Linked DNA regions of Homo sapiens. The protein of the gene in region 3 interacts with the protein of the main gene of each other region in a pairwise test. Each region holds a gene or a part of one and is shown on either strand. Other genes may lie near its edges.

Region 1 (3,450 bases), on a different chromosome or scaffold from region 3:
GGCCATCTCTGCACTAACTCATCTGAATTATGAAGGTGGCAGTCTTGGTCAGTAGTTTAAAGAGTTTCCCTACTTTTTAACCCTTTTTGAAATAAAACTTTTACAGGTAGTAGATTCCTATTAATAAAATTATTTAAGTTCATGTTTCTCTTTTAGAGAATGAATTGTTTAAATACAAATATGTGCTTTTTTAAAACCCTTATTTTTAAATATATATATATATTTTAAAAAAACCTTTTAAGTAGGAAACCTCTAAGGTATTTCTGAGCTAAAAAATAGCAGTGCTGGATACACTTTAAAGATCTTTGCAAGACGGTTAGAGTGACTTTGCTTTGGAGACTAGAGGTGCTGGAGAGTAGACCCAGAGCAGGAGGTGGCTGCTGGGAGCCATGATGGACGATGTCCACTCCCCACACAGACATAACATGCCCTTGCTTCTGAGGGACTCTCCTATGGGGAGGTGGCTTGACCCACCCGGTGCCAGGAGGCAGGGAAGGAGGTAGCTTGCAAAGCCCACTTTATTGAGTGCTGGAGCATTTACACAGCGCGGAGGAGGAGATAAGCTGGGGCTGAGCAAACCGCACCCAAGGGGTTAGAGGGATTCTGGGTGAGAGGGATGAGCTCCCAAGGCCTCTGAGGCTTCCACCCACACCCACCCTCACTCCCAGGGTCCAAGAGAGGCCCAGAAGTTGTACAGCAGCATCCAGCAAGGCCCCCTCGCACAGCTTGGACTTACAGGCCACTCACCTCCAACAGGGGAGATAGTCACCCATGTACTGCAAAAACAGGGACTACCGGAAGCAGCCTAGGGCCCAGAAGTGTGGAAGCCTGGAGTAGAGCTGGGTCGGGGGCCAGGCTTGCTGCACTGTGCCGACTGCTCCCAGGGTGACGGCCTGTGCCCAGTGCGGAATATGGCCCATAGAGAGGATGCTGTCAGGCAGAGGCTCTAGCATCTGGCTTTTATTGGTTGCCTTTCTTAAACCCAGCATTTTTTAAAAAGTCACCTGAGGTGGTAGTTTAGTCAGGGCTGGAGAAAGGGGTAGGCCAGTGGTCAGTCGGGAGGAGGGTACCGGTGTGGCATGATGGGTGCTTCACATGTAGTACCAGGCCAAGAGTCCAGCAGCTAGGGCCACACCAGCGGCCAGGATGAACTGGAGGCTGGGCTTCCTCAGCACAGCCATAGCTGTTCGGAAGGGACAGCTGCTGCCCTCCAGGGCACCTGTGTGGCAGCACCAATAGGAGACATGGCATCAGTGGAGTCTCCTGCTACACCTGCCCCAGGAGGGGAGCTCAGGACACACAGACCTACCTTTGTCTTGTTCAGCAGCGTAGAAAGGGCATTTACGCATGTCTCCTTTCCCATCGTGTACAGGGAACCCATCCTCCAAGGTCTCTCTGGCCAGTGTGGAGCCGGCCTGGTCCAGTTCATTGAATATCTGCAGGAGCAGAGGATCGACTGAGCCATCTTTGGGCTGCCCATACTTTTTTTTTTTTTTTAAATGTCTTTTGAGATGAGGTCTCTGTTGCCCAGGCTAGAGTGCAGTGTTATGAACATGGCTAACTCACTGCAGCCTCAAACTCCTAGGCTCAAGTGGTCCTCCCACCTTATCCTCCTACGTGTGTGTACCACCATACCTGGCTAATTTTTAAATTTTGTGGGGAGATGGTGTCTCACCTTGGTTGCCCAGGCTGGTCTTCAACTCCTGGGGTCAAGTAATGCCCCTGCCTCAGCCTCCCAAAGTGCTGGGATTACAGGCATGAGCTACTGCGCCTGGCTACACTCTCCTTTTAGAGGACGCCCTCCAGAGAGAGTGAGCTGGAGCAGGTGAGCTTGCTCAGGTGTGCCAACTACACAGCAAGCAGCACTGGTGGGCGGCAGCTGCACTGCCTGATGGTCTTCCCTCCCTAGCAAGAGCTCTGGGGAGGTGTGGATATTGGTACCCCAAGAAGGCTGCCAAATGCTGGGTCTCCCCTGGGAACTGACCAGAGATGTAGCCTTCTCTGAGGTGGCTCAAGCCACTGAAACTACCACAGCACAGACAGGAGGGCATGAGTACATCCCCATTTCTAGGTGCTGGTTATTTTTTTATCAAGAAGCAACAGAAAACCTGGAACATGGGAGAATGAGACTGTGGCAGGGCATACTCATCCTGAGTGCCCTGGGAGGCCTCAGTGGAAGCTGACAGGACCTGGGGACAGAGTAAGCTTCCCCAGGTTCAGCCTCATCTAAAGGCTACTTGTAAACAGAGCTTATTTACTCTCCTTGGTGGCACTGGCTCTCTATTAACTTATAAAGCAGGGCTTCTCAGAGCAAAACTTGAAAAGAAAATTAACCATTCTTCAAGACCAGCATCCTGCAATGAGGGAGGAAGCCAGCTCCATTCTTCCAGACCCCTCTATGTGCGAGAGGACTCACCCTTCCCAAAACACTACCCACTGGCATCTATCACACCAGGCCTCCATGCTGGGAACCACCCACTGGGCCCACAAGCTCTGGTGGCCAATCTGGTGGCCACCTTCCTCTCGGCACCCTGCAGCTCATCTGTCCTAATGCCATGTGTGCCTTCATGGGCCACTATGGATCTGCTACCACTGTCAAAGTTTCCCTCTTCAGCCCTAGCAGCTGGCAGCCCCCAATAGTACCTGCATGTTATACTCAAAAGCCTTGTTGGCCTCCTCCACGATCCTCTCTTTGGTCTTCATGTTCAGGTCCAGGGCGTTCATCCTGGCCCGGTAGAGCTGCTTGAACTGCTGGGCATTGTCCACATTCTCAAACAGGTAGAACTGGGTCCCTTCCCCTGTGCTGGGGAGTTTCAGTGCTCGCTGGGCCACCTTCTTCAGCACCTGGCCCCCCGAGAGATCCCCCATGTAGCGGGTGTATGCATGGGCCACCAGTAGCTCCGGCTCGTTCTGCCCTATGTAGTGGATCCGCTCCACGTACTTCTGGGCAGCCTTGGGGCACTGCACCTGCTCCTCCCAGTTTTCACCAAAGAAATACTCCATGTCCTTGGTCAGCGCCTCCTTCCGGTGCAGCTCCATGGGGAAGTACAAAGGGGCAAAGGCTGGATGGTCCTTGTTGCGCTCCATTTCCTCCTCGAGGGCTGAGTATGTGAAGTAAAGTGCCGTGGTGGCCAGCTGTGGAGGTGACAGGAGGAGGCCAGCTATGCCTGAGCACACCACATCCGAGCAGCTGGATGCAGAGGCTCAAGTGACAACCCCCAACCCCAAAGACCCAATCCTATGGTCCATTTTTATGTAGTGAATTATTTAACACACAAGGAAGCTTTTGTTTCTTAAAGGAATGGCATGGTGAAGTCTTTGGAACACGCATACTTTTGCTTCCTTCACACCACTATGTTATTCTATCTAAGCCATGAGAACCAATTTTTTTTTTTTTTGGCGGGGTAAAGAGTCTCGCTCTGTCACCCAGGCTGGAGTACAGTGGGACGA
Region 2 (3,584 bases), on a different chromosome or scaffold from region 3:
GGCTGTGCAGTGAGGCCAGAGAGGAGGCTGAAGCCAGAGATGGCCAAGGGCCCAGAGGCTGCGGTGTGACCTAGAGGGAAGAGGTGCCTTGTGACTGTTTCTGGGGAGGGGCCTCAGCTTGGTGCCTGCTGTGCAGGGGTGTTCTGTGGGCCTGAGACGGTCCCAGTCAGCCCAGACACTGTGCCAGGCCTAACACTGTTGGCACCTCCTCCTGCTTACCTGGGAAGTGGCAGAAGCTGCTCTCTCCTCCCCGGGAAAAGGTGAGGAATGGGCACTGGACAGCCACTAGGTGGAGAGGACTGTCAGCTGGGAGGGGTAGGAGGGGAAGTGGGACCCACTGCCTCACCCCACCTGGAAGATGGCCTGGGCCCGAGCAGACCACCTTGGAAGCCATGGCGGTGGAGGAGACCTGGTACCACCGAGACCCTCCCCATCAGGCCCCAGCCCAGCAGAAGCTGAAAAGGGGTCACCAGGTACAAAAAGAGTCTGAGACAGCCGAATCAGGCACCATTTTTTATAAAAACGCATAGTCTCATTTTTCACTCTTTAAAATCACATTCAAAAATCGGCAAAGAAACGCCCCGGGGAATGAGTAGACGGGAGGGGAGGGTGCGCCAACCCAGCCCCGGGGGGGAGAAGGCGCGACACCACACAGGCAGCGCGACTGGCACGAGGGGGCATGCGGTGGGCGAGGCGGCGGCACTGACAGGACGTGGGCTGTGGGGCTGGCCAGCCTGGGCGGGGGTACACTGATGGGCCAGGATGGGGGGCACACTGATAGGCCCCAGCCAGCCTCCTTGCTGTGCTGCCCGCCCACCTGGCCGGCCCCGTCCTGGGCAGATGGGGTCGCACCCAGCCCAGCATCAGCGAGACCTCAGGCCAGGCGAGGCCAGTATGGCCCAACCTGCAGGTGCCTTGCTGTGGTCCCTGAGCCCGGGTGCTGGGGGTTGGGGCAAGAGGGGACAGCAGGGAGGGTAGCAGCACCTGCTGCCAATGCCACTCTCTCAGCCAAGCCCCGCAGTGTCAGGGAAGTGGGAGTGGAGGCAGCCAGTGACACAGAGGCTTTTCCTGAATAAGGGCACAGGAGCCCGAGTCACTGTGGGAGGCCTTGAGGGCCAGGGAGACAACGGGCCCCTCCTCTCGCCAACACTGTGGAGCAGGACAGTGCAGGGCCTGCCCCTCTGCAGCAGGAGGGGGTGCAGTGGGAAAATTCAAGTCGGATCCCTGTGCTGTGCCTGCCCCTGGTGAGGGGGGATGGGCCACCCAGCAGTGCCCATGGGCACAGAGTGCAGCCCACAGAGCCCAGGGTGGCACAGCTTGGTGTGGCATCATCCCTCGGGGAAGGGGCGGGAGGGCTGTGCTCTTCCCCCACAGGAAGACACTGGGAGCGGGCAGCCCCTGAAGTCAGGACAGAGGGCGCCGGGCAGCGGCTGGGTTGGTGCAGCAGGAGCCGAGGCAAGCGGGCCCCTCCCGGGGGAGCTGGGCCAGGCTGGGGCCACGGGAAATCACAATAATTACAAAATAAAACCTTTTCCGCTTGGCGGGAAAACAAATAATAAAAATTCGACAAAATAAATTAGAGGTTTATAAAAGGCGGGTGGGCGGGTCAGAGGCCGTTGGCACTGCCGCGCTGGACCAGCGGCACCTTGCTCAGCTCCACCACGGGCGAGCGCGGCTTGTTCTTCATCTTGGGCACCCGCTGCACCAGCTGCTGGGCCTCGCGGTAGGCGTCGCGCAGCTCCTTCTTCCACTGCACCAGCTCAGGGTCGCTCTGCACATGCCAAGCCCAGCTCTGTCAGCTGGGGCTCTCCCCAGCCTGCCTGGCCTGGCCCCTCGGCCCTCCCATCCCTGGCTCAGCCCCCACTCACATCGCACTGCAAAATGAACTGTTTCCCACCGCGGATCTTGAGGAGCAGGCACTTGCGCTCCTTGATCTGCGTCTCCTCCACCGACTGGATCTCCTCCATGGTCAGCAGGCTCTGCTGCAGGGCCAGGGATGGGTGGTGCAGGTAAGAGCCGGGCCGGCCAGCCACCCGGAAGCCCGGCTCCCGGACCCCCGCACGGGCTCCTTACCGGGGCCTCGCCCTCGCCCCGCCACTCGAGGCGGTTGGGGAACAGGTAGAAGTACCGCCGCTGCCACTGGGTCAGGAAGGGGTTGCCCATCTTGGACATGTAGCCATGCATGATGCAGTCCTTGCCCAGGGCGTAGTCTGAGGCGAGAGACAGAGGAGACTCAGCCGGCCCCACCTGGGTTTCTTTTTTGTTTTGAGACAGGGTCTCCACTCTGTTGCCCAGGCTGGAGGGCTGTGGCACAATCTTGGCTCACTGCAACCTCCACCTCCCAGGTTCAAACGATCCTCCCGCCTCAGCCTCCCGGGTAGCTGGGAGTACAGGCGCGTGCCACCATGCCCGGCTAATTTTTTTGGTATTTTTTGGTAGAGACAGGGTTTCACCATGTTGGCCAGGCTGGTCTCAAACTCCTGACCTCAAGTGATCTGCGCTCCTTGGCCTCCCAAAGTGCTGGGATTACAGGCGTGAGCCACCATGCCCGGCCCCAGCCTGAGTTTGAATCCCAGAGCCGCCACTTTCTGGCTGTGATCCAGGGTGAGTTCCTTAAACCCGAGCCAGCTGCTCACTTCTAAGCAGGCAGGGGCCTGGTGCCGCAGCAGCCGGCGACCCTCACCTTCCTCATGGCCCAGCTGCTTGTTCTTGGCTTTCTTGCGAGCCTCCAGCCGGTCTGTCTCAGCGTTGATGGTGTCGAAGACAGTCTCTGCCACCTCCTGCTGCCACCGCTCCGAGATGGTGAGGGGGAAGTTGCGGTAGAGCTCCTGATCACTGTCCAGTAACTTTACCAGGTGGATGGGGCAGGGGCACATGGGTGGACAGAGATGCCGGAATACCATCAGCCACAGGCTGCCCAGACCCAGGGCCCTGGGTAGGGATGGTCAGTGCAACTGCCACCCCCCAGGGAAGTTGGCCAAGGAGGAACTGAGGCCTACAAGCTGGCAGGGCTGGCACAGGGTCTCACAGGTGATAAGAAGGGAGAGGGATCCTTCCCCAGGCCAGGATCACAGCCTAGGTACAAGAGGCCAGGCAAGGCCCAGTACCTTGATTCCTTTTGTGTCCTCCTCATCGAAGGAGCCAATGTCGAAGGCGTCGGCCGCGTTCACCTCCCCTCGTGGGGGGATCAGCGGGGGAGGGTACTGCAGCAGAACAGGGGTCATGGGCATTAGCTCGGGGGTGGGGCTGCAGAGCACCCCCAGTCCCTGCCGCAGACTGTTACCTTCTGCAAGAAGACCATCTGCCAGTCCAGGGAGCGGAAAAAGGGGCTCTCTTTCACCTCCTGAGCCCTGTGGGGAGAGGCCAGTCATCTGGGCTCAGCCCCACCCTGAGTCCCGGGCTTAACTCCTGATTGAGCCACTTTCTGGCTCTGTGAACTTGGGCAAGTTCCTTAAGCCTGAGCTGTTTCCTCATCTCTCAAATGGGAGAACAGAAGTTCCTACATCGTAGGGTTGTGGGTTTTAACACTGGTAAATTTTGCAACCCTATGCCCAGTGCTTAATAAATGTTTGATAAACATAAAA
Region 3 (3,500 bases):
GCAAGGCCGGGGACATGTTACGGGACAAGCTACAGGCTGATTTGTCTCTTCATAGTGTAGATTGCAGAGTGGGACAAATGTTGGGCTCCTCTTCCTCCCTTATGGAGGTAGAATTTGTGTGTGTCAATGCCTGCACCTGAGTGTTCATCCTGATGGGCTTTTACATGTGTGTATACCCATGTAACTACTGCTCTGATCATGTTATAGAATAAGGGTATCCAATCTTTTTGCTTCCCTGGGCCACATTGGAAGAAGAATTTTCTTGGGCCACACCTAAAATACGCTAACACTAATGATAGCTGGTGAGCTAAATAAAACAAGCAAAAATAAAAATAAAAAATAAAGTCACAAAAAAGTCTCATAATGTTTTAAGAAAGTTTATGAATTTGTGTTGGGCCACATTCAAAGCTGCCTGGGCCGCATATGGACTGCAGGTTAGACAAGCATGTTATAGAACATTTCCATCACCTTAGGGGGCTTCCAAGTACCCCCTCCCAGTCCGTGCACCCCAGAGGTAACCACCATTCTGACTCTACCCCAAGGACTACTCTCGCCTGCCTTCATGATGTGGGCTTTTCCCTTAGTCTAGTGGAGATCTGGCCCTTAGCTCAGGGGAGGGAGGCCTGAGGCTAGCCTGTATGTGCAAACCTACTGGCCCTGGAGGCCACTGATGGCTTCAGGTGGTGGCAGGAATTCACCGTAGTAGAGGCCTCCATGGGGTTGGCACTGGTTAACGTGATCCCAGGATCACGCCTGCTACCTCTCCACACATACAGACCCATACCCTGCCGGTGGAGCCAGAAGCGCAGGGGGAGGGCTGACGAGTTCCCTTACAGTTCCTGTCCTTTCCGTCCCAGGTTTGGTCCAAGGAGCTTCTTGACGCAAGGATCCCTTCACCTTAAACTACAATCTGGGTAGTCCCAAGGGCACTTGCACAGAGGGAGGAGACAGAATGGTTAGGGTGGGCGTCCCATCTGTGTCATCCAGAAATGAGCTGACACCAATAGCGGCTGCCCAGACCAGGACAGTGTCCTTTGCCTACCATTCTTCTCAGGTCACCTGGAGGAGAAGGAGAACCCCTCCCCCAGGCTGGGGGAAAGTGCCAGGCAAACCCTTGGACCACACTCCTGCATCCTGGTCTTGGTTACTGCCATAGCCAGGGTCACTCACCACATCTGGTCTGCCCATGGCTTAGGGCTCTGGAGCCATTGGCCGTGGATATATAGTCAGCCTTCCATGCCTGGCTTCTCCGGTAGGACCACAGACCTCAGATCAGCCCATTTATGATCCTGCCCTGGGCGGCTCCCCACTTACAGGAAACCCCACCAAGAGGAATTTGGGCTGCATCATTTCCGGCTTCCTGCCTGGGCTGCTGGAGGTGGCTGGCTGGCAGCCCCCTGACCCAGTGGTGTTTGGAGTGGGGAGAGGGAGGTCTCCACACCTGGGGTGCCTCACTATTTGGGTAAAGCCAGCCCAGAAGTGCATGCTAGGGCTCCCCCTCTTGGCGAAGAAGGCTGGTCCCTTCCTCCTGAGCCCTGGAGTCAGCCCCCCAGGAAGGTGTTGGCGGTCACCTTGGGCATCCCTCTGTTGCCCTGATTGGGAGGGGGTCCCTTAAAAAGCCTAAACCCGCTGCACTCCAGCCTGGGCGACAGAGCGGGACTCCGTCTCAAAAAAAAAAAAAAAAAAAAAGCCTAAACCCAAAGACAGGCCTCTCTCCTTTACTTCCTGTTTTCATGCCTCAGTGGGGGTCACTTGCTGTGGGCAGAGCTCAGGCTGGGCCCCTGACTCAGAGTCTCCTCAATTTTCCTGGGAACTTTGGTGGAAGTCCTTAGAGGGGAAAGGCCTGAGAATTGCCTTCTAGTTGGGAGAGATTCTTATCCCCCTAAGCCTGTCCCTCCCCTGATGGGGATACTTCTGAACACCCTGAGCGCTACAGGGCAAGGCAGAGAGCCAGTCCCCCACCCCCACCCCAGGACAGGGTTTCCTGAGACAGGGTGGGGGCCGCTGGGCAGAGCAAAGTGTCCTGGGAGAGAGGCGCCCTGCCCCCACTCTCAGGCGGCACACAATGGCTGCTTTCTCCCCCGTGACCTTTCCGCAGCCTGAGTCGTATGCAGCTGTCTCCCAAGGGGCCTAGGATGGGTGGCATCTCCTCCACCCTTGAGAAGAACCCCGGAACTCCCACCCAGTCCTGGCCCTGCTTCTTCTCCCAAGTTCACTTTTCCCAAAAGAGTGGAGAGCAGGCTATAGAGGCAGAGGGACAGCAGCAAGTGTGGACATGGCATGGTCTCAGGCATGAAAGTGCCACATCCTGGCAATTCTACTCATTAGCCTCGCATCCTTGAATAAGCCCTTTAACCTCTCTGAGCCACTGTTTCTTCATCACAGAGGTAGCATGTCCTACCTTGCCTGACAGTTGCAAGCAGCATCACACATAATGTACCCAGCTGGTACCTAGTGGGTGCCCAGTCAAGCCCAGCTCCTTTGCTCTGTCCATCTTCCTTAAGAGGGCTCCAGCTTACACCCTCAGTGATGATGGCAGGAGGCTCCAGCATGAAAGGACCTCACCTGCTGGCAGGAGGCCAGAGGCAGGACCTGTGGACGGGTGTGATCTGTCAGGCATGTTTCAACAGCATCTGGCATGCAGCAGCATCTGGGTTGCATCCCCTTGGGGATCCCTTCCTCCCTTCGGGACGGGCTGGGGCAGAGACCTCGTTTCCTGGGAAAAGGCTGAGAGACTGGTAGCAGTGGCTGCAGGGCAGGAAACTGTGCCTGCTGAATGGGCCCTGGGGACTGCATATCCCAGAGGGGTAAGGATGTAGGAAAGGGCATGGCTCTGTCAGCCCCCAGCTGTGAGCTCTTGGGGAGATCCCTCACTGGTAACCTGGCCGTAGTGATGGTCCCAGCTCCTAGGCTGTTGGAGACTGAGTGAGTGAATGTGTGGAGAGTACTAGGCTTGGCACGGGCCAGAGCAGGTGCTCAGGAGGTCTGGCCCATCATCTGGCTCCGGCTGACCCTTGCCCTCACCCTGGCAGACCCTGGCTGGGCATCCATCAGCAGGGGTGTGCTGGTGTGTGACGAGTGCTGCAGCGTGCACCGGAGCCTGGGACGCCACATCTCCATTGTCAAGCACCTTCGCCACAGCGCCTGGCCTCCCACGCTGCTGCAGGTACAGGGCTCAGTCGGGTGGTTCTTCCTTCCCCTCAGGCAGAGTGTGCTGAGCATGAGGGCGTTTCCCCCTCACCCACATACACCCCCATCTGGAATCTGCAGCTTCCAAGGGGCAGCACCCCCCTAGGGCAGAGGCTAATCCTGACCCTTTCCTCCCATCTACTCACTTCATGCAGAAGAGTAGCTCACACCCCTGCTCTGCCACTTATCAACGTGGTCGTGTAGCATTGAGCAAGTTGCTTCACCTCTCTGAGCCTTGGCACACTCATGGGATCTGTGTCTTTGGGCAGCTGGACTAGATGGAGGTGTGGTGGTGCGGGCACACAGTAGGC
Region 4 (3,500 bases), on a different chromosome or scaffold from region 3:
AGCTACTTGGGAGGCTGAGGTGGAAGAATCACCTGAACCCTGAGGTCGAGGCTGCAAGTGAACTGTAATAGTAAGAGTCTCCTCCTAATCTTGTGCATCCTTTCAGAGAGAGAGATGATAGATATTCAAACAAATACATACATATATATAACATATTTATATATATTCTTTTTAACATAAAAGTATAGCCAGGTGTGGTGGTTCACTACTAGAGTCCCAGCTACTTAGGAAGCTGAGGTGGGAGGTTCACTTGAGGCCACGAGTTTGAGACCAGCGTGGGCAACATCTCTTGGGGAAAAAAAAAAAAAAACCCACCATAAAAGCATTCTATAACACGTAATTCTGTGTTTGTCTTTCTTCTCTTAATACATCTTGGAGATCAGTACGCATCAGTATATAGAGAGCTTCCTTGTCCTTTTTCAGGGCTGTGTAGTATTCTGCTGTATGGCTATACCATGATGTTTTCACTAGCTTTCTACTGCCTGACATTTGGGATATTTCCTGCTTTTGCTATTGGACACAAGGCTCTGATGAACAGCCTTTACTATATTTAATTTTTTTGTGAGAAGTTTAACTGGAAGATAAATTCCCAGAAGTGGGGCACCCAGTTAAGGATATGTGACTTTGTCATTTTAACACACACTGCCAGATCACCCCCTATAAATGTTGTGCCACGTATCCTCCCACCAGCAGGGGAAAGGAGGGGCCACCAAGCAGTCTCACTTTAGTGCTTTTCTCTCCTTTTTACCAGATGCGAGCCACCCCTCTGGCTGCTCCTGCGGGTTCCCTGTCCAGGAAGAAGCGGTTGGAGTTGGATGACAACTTAGATACCGAGCGTCCCGTCCAGAAACGAGCTCGAAGTGGGCCCCAGCCCAGACTGCCCCCCTGCCTGTTGCCCCTGAGCCCACCTACTGCTCCAGATCGTGCAACTGCTGTGGCCACTGCCTCCCGTCTTGGGCCCTATGTCCTCCTGGAGCCCGAGGAGGGCGGGCGGGCCTACCAGGCCCTGCACTGCCCTACAGGCACTGAGTATACCTGCAAGGTACGTGCCCATGGGCGGCTGTCCCCCAGCACCACAGGAGGCCTGGGAAGGAGGCCTCCAAAGGATTGCCAGGGTGCAGAGGGGTCCTTATGTTCATTCATTCTTGTGTTTGTTTAGTGGGGAAGCATCCAGGGAGCCCCTGCTGGACTGATACTAGAGAGGTAAACCAGAGGTCGTCCCAGTCCTGGGGGAGTTCACAGCTTAGGCCCTACAGTGTGATAAATGCTGCAGGGGTAGAACTTAGGGATCATGGGCGCAGAAAAGGCCGAGCAGAAGTTAGCCAGGTAGAAGTGGGAGATGGGAGTTGCAGGCAGGGGGAACAGCTGTTCAAAGGCCTAGAAAAGTGAGGGGATAGCACTTTAGAGAATGAAAAGGACTTCTCTGTGGCCAGAGTGGAGAGGATGTGCAGAAAGGGGCAGGAGATGAAGGTTGGCAGCAGCTGGTCATGAAGGTGTTAACAAGGGGCCTCCACTGGGCTGTGCGGAGCTACTGAAGATGTTTGCACAAGAGAAGGGTAGGGCATGGTAGACATCAAAACTCCTGGGACCTCGGAGGTGATCGAGCCTAACCTGGGGCCATTTTACAGATAGGAAGACTGAGATGAAGACAGGAGAAGGGCCATGCGTGAAGTCACATAGCACTGGGCCTGGCTCCTGGGGTAAACTAAGGGGTAGAAAAGTCTGAGGATTCCTGGCAGAAACCAGGAAATGGACAGGGTCAAGGCCCCTGAGGGTCAGCCCATGCAGGACACTGACAAGTGACAGTCCAAGAAGACAGAGATGAGAATAAAAAGTGTAACAATAGGTATTCACTGTGCACCAGGTACTATGATGATTGCTTAGTGTGCACAATCTCTTTTAATCTTGACACAACCAATGAGGTGGTTTCTATCATTGTGCCCCTTTTATAGATAGAGGACACTGAGACTCAGAAAGCCATGGTTACTTGCCACATGACAGAGCCAGGTGGTATCAGAGCTGGGATTGGGCCCAGGAGGCTGAGCCCAGAGAGTCCTGTGCCCGTGCTAGGATAAGCGTTTCACACAATCAGGGCAGGCTGCCCTGGCAGGCAAGCATAAGGAAGATAAGGGGGACCTGGAAACCCAAGGGAGAGTAGCGGGGGCCTGGGTCCCTTGGGAATGCACAGAGAAGCAGAAGGACTTAAGCCTCCTCCTGGGGCAGCAGCAGAGCTTTGCTCTGTTGACGGAGATGCAGTGAACAGCGGGGCAGATCCAGACAGGGTCCAGCCCCTAGCTTCACCTGGCCTCTTGTGCACAGATCTCCAGCGCCCTTACCAGGTGCCCTAAGGAGCCCAGAACTCTGGGTCCCCTTCCTGCAGCATCACAGGCTCTTTTCCACTCCCGCTGGGGAGGTGAGTCCATGATAAGAGGAATAACCCAAGCAGGCTCAGGAGAGAAGCGCCATGCGTTCACAGGGCCCTGATTCTCAAGAAACATTTGGGAAAATCCACTGGAACATACTCACCCCTATGCCAATGTGCACCATGGGTGCTGAATGGTCATTTCCACACTTCCTCAGCTTTTCTGGTCAGTGTGTAGAAAGATCAAAATCTTGTCTTTGTAAATGATCAACTTATTCATTAATTCAACACAACTTCATTGAGCACCCGTATTTGCCATGTACCATGCTGTGGTTAAAAAACAAAGTTCTGTTCTCATCAAGCTGACGTTCTAGTGGGAGATACAGACACTAAACAAGCGAATAAGTAAAATACGTGTCAGGTGGCCGGGCGCGGTGGCTCACACCTGTAATCCCAGCACTTTGGGAGGCCGAGGTAGGCAGATCACCTGAAGTCAGGAGTTCGAGACTATCCTGGCCAACATGGTGAAACCTTGTTTCTATTAAAAATACAAAAAATTAGCCGGGCATGGTGGCAGGGGCCTGTAATCCCAGCTACTCGAGAGGCTGAGGCAGGAGAATCTCTTGAACCTGGGAGGTGGAGGTTGCAGTGAGCCGAGATCACACCACTGCACTCCAGCCTGGGCAACAAGAGCAAAACTCCGTCTCAAAAAAACAAAAAACAAACAGGAAAACCCTTATTCCAGCATCTTTCTTGGTTCCTTTGCAATGCTTATCAGCATTTGTCAATATTTGGTTTCTGGGCATGTTTGCATGGCCTCCCAGTGGGCACCGGAGAGCAGAGCCCATGGCTGTCAGTCTAGCTGGACATGTGGCTGGCCCGTGCAGGCCCAGGGCCAGCATACTGAATGAATGAAAGCGTGGGTGGGCAAAGAGGACGGGAGCTGTGACGGTGATGAGCATCAGGTGCCTTCTGCATCATCCGCCCTTCCGGATTCCTCCTGCTTTGTGGGTTATTTTTCTGTTTGGGTGACCTGTTACTTTTCAGTTATCCGATGTTTGAGGCCATATAGCGTAGCAGTTAAGAGCACAGACAAAAGGCCGGGTGCAGTGGCTCACACCTGTAATCCCAGCCCTTT

What was found. The genes of interacting proteins can lie anywhere in the genome.
Region 1: the proteins of GIT1 (region 3) and HMOX2 interact in a two-hybrid assay, tested with the Homo sapiens proteins (2 studies listed by BioGRID and IntAct).
Region 2: the proteins of GIT1 (region 3) and GRK2 interact in binary tests that used the Homo sapiens proteins (3 or more experiments, as listed by UniProt).
Region 4: the proteins of GIT1 (region 3) and TRIB3 interact in a two-hybrid assay, tested with the Homo sapiens proteins (one large-scale study listed by BioGRID and IntAct).

Annotation. Positions count from the first base shown.
Region 1 is NC_000016.10:4,507,398-4,510,847, reverse strand, and holds the end of HMOX2 (heme oxygenase 2), read right to left. Parts: intron 3,136-3,450; coding exon 2,644-3,135; intron 1,437-2,643; coding exon 1,310-1,436; intron 1,220-1,309; coding exon 1,092-1,219; 3' UTR 501-1,091; downstream 1-500.
Region 2 is NC_000011.10:67,283,473-67,287,056, reverse strand, and holds the end of GRK2 (beta-adrenergic receptor kinase 1), read right to left. Parts: intron 3,351-3,584; coding exon 3,284-3,350; intron 3,204-3,283; coding exon 3,108-3,203; intron 2,847-3,107; coding exon 2,684-2,846; intron 2,211-2,683; coding exon 2,074-2,210; intron 1,983-2,073; coding exon 1,869-1,982; intron 1,772-1,868; coding exon 1,607-1,771; 3' UTR 501-1,606; downstream 1-500. UniProt on the Homo sapiens protein: Specifically phosphorylates the agonist-occupied form of the beta-adrenergic and closely related receptors, probably inducing a desensitization of them. Key regulator of LPAR1 signaling.
Region 3 is NC_000017.11:29,583,149-29,586,648, reverse strand, and holds part of GIT1 (ARF GTPase-activating protein GIT1), read left to right. Parts: intron 1-3,032; coding exon 3,033-3,166; intron 3,167-3,500. UniProt on the Homo sapiens protein: GTPase-activating protein for ADP ribosylation factor family members, including ARF1.
Region 4 is NC_000020.11:387,260-390,759, forward strand, and holds part of TRIB3 (tribbles homolog 3), read left to right. Parts: intron 1-751; coding exon 752-1,042; intron 1,043-3,500. UniProt on the Homo sapiens protein: Inactive protein kinase which acts as a regulator of the integrated stress response (ISR), a process for adaptation to various stress. Inhibits the transcriptional activity of DDIT3/CHOP and is involved in DDIT3/CHOP-dependent cell death during ER stress.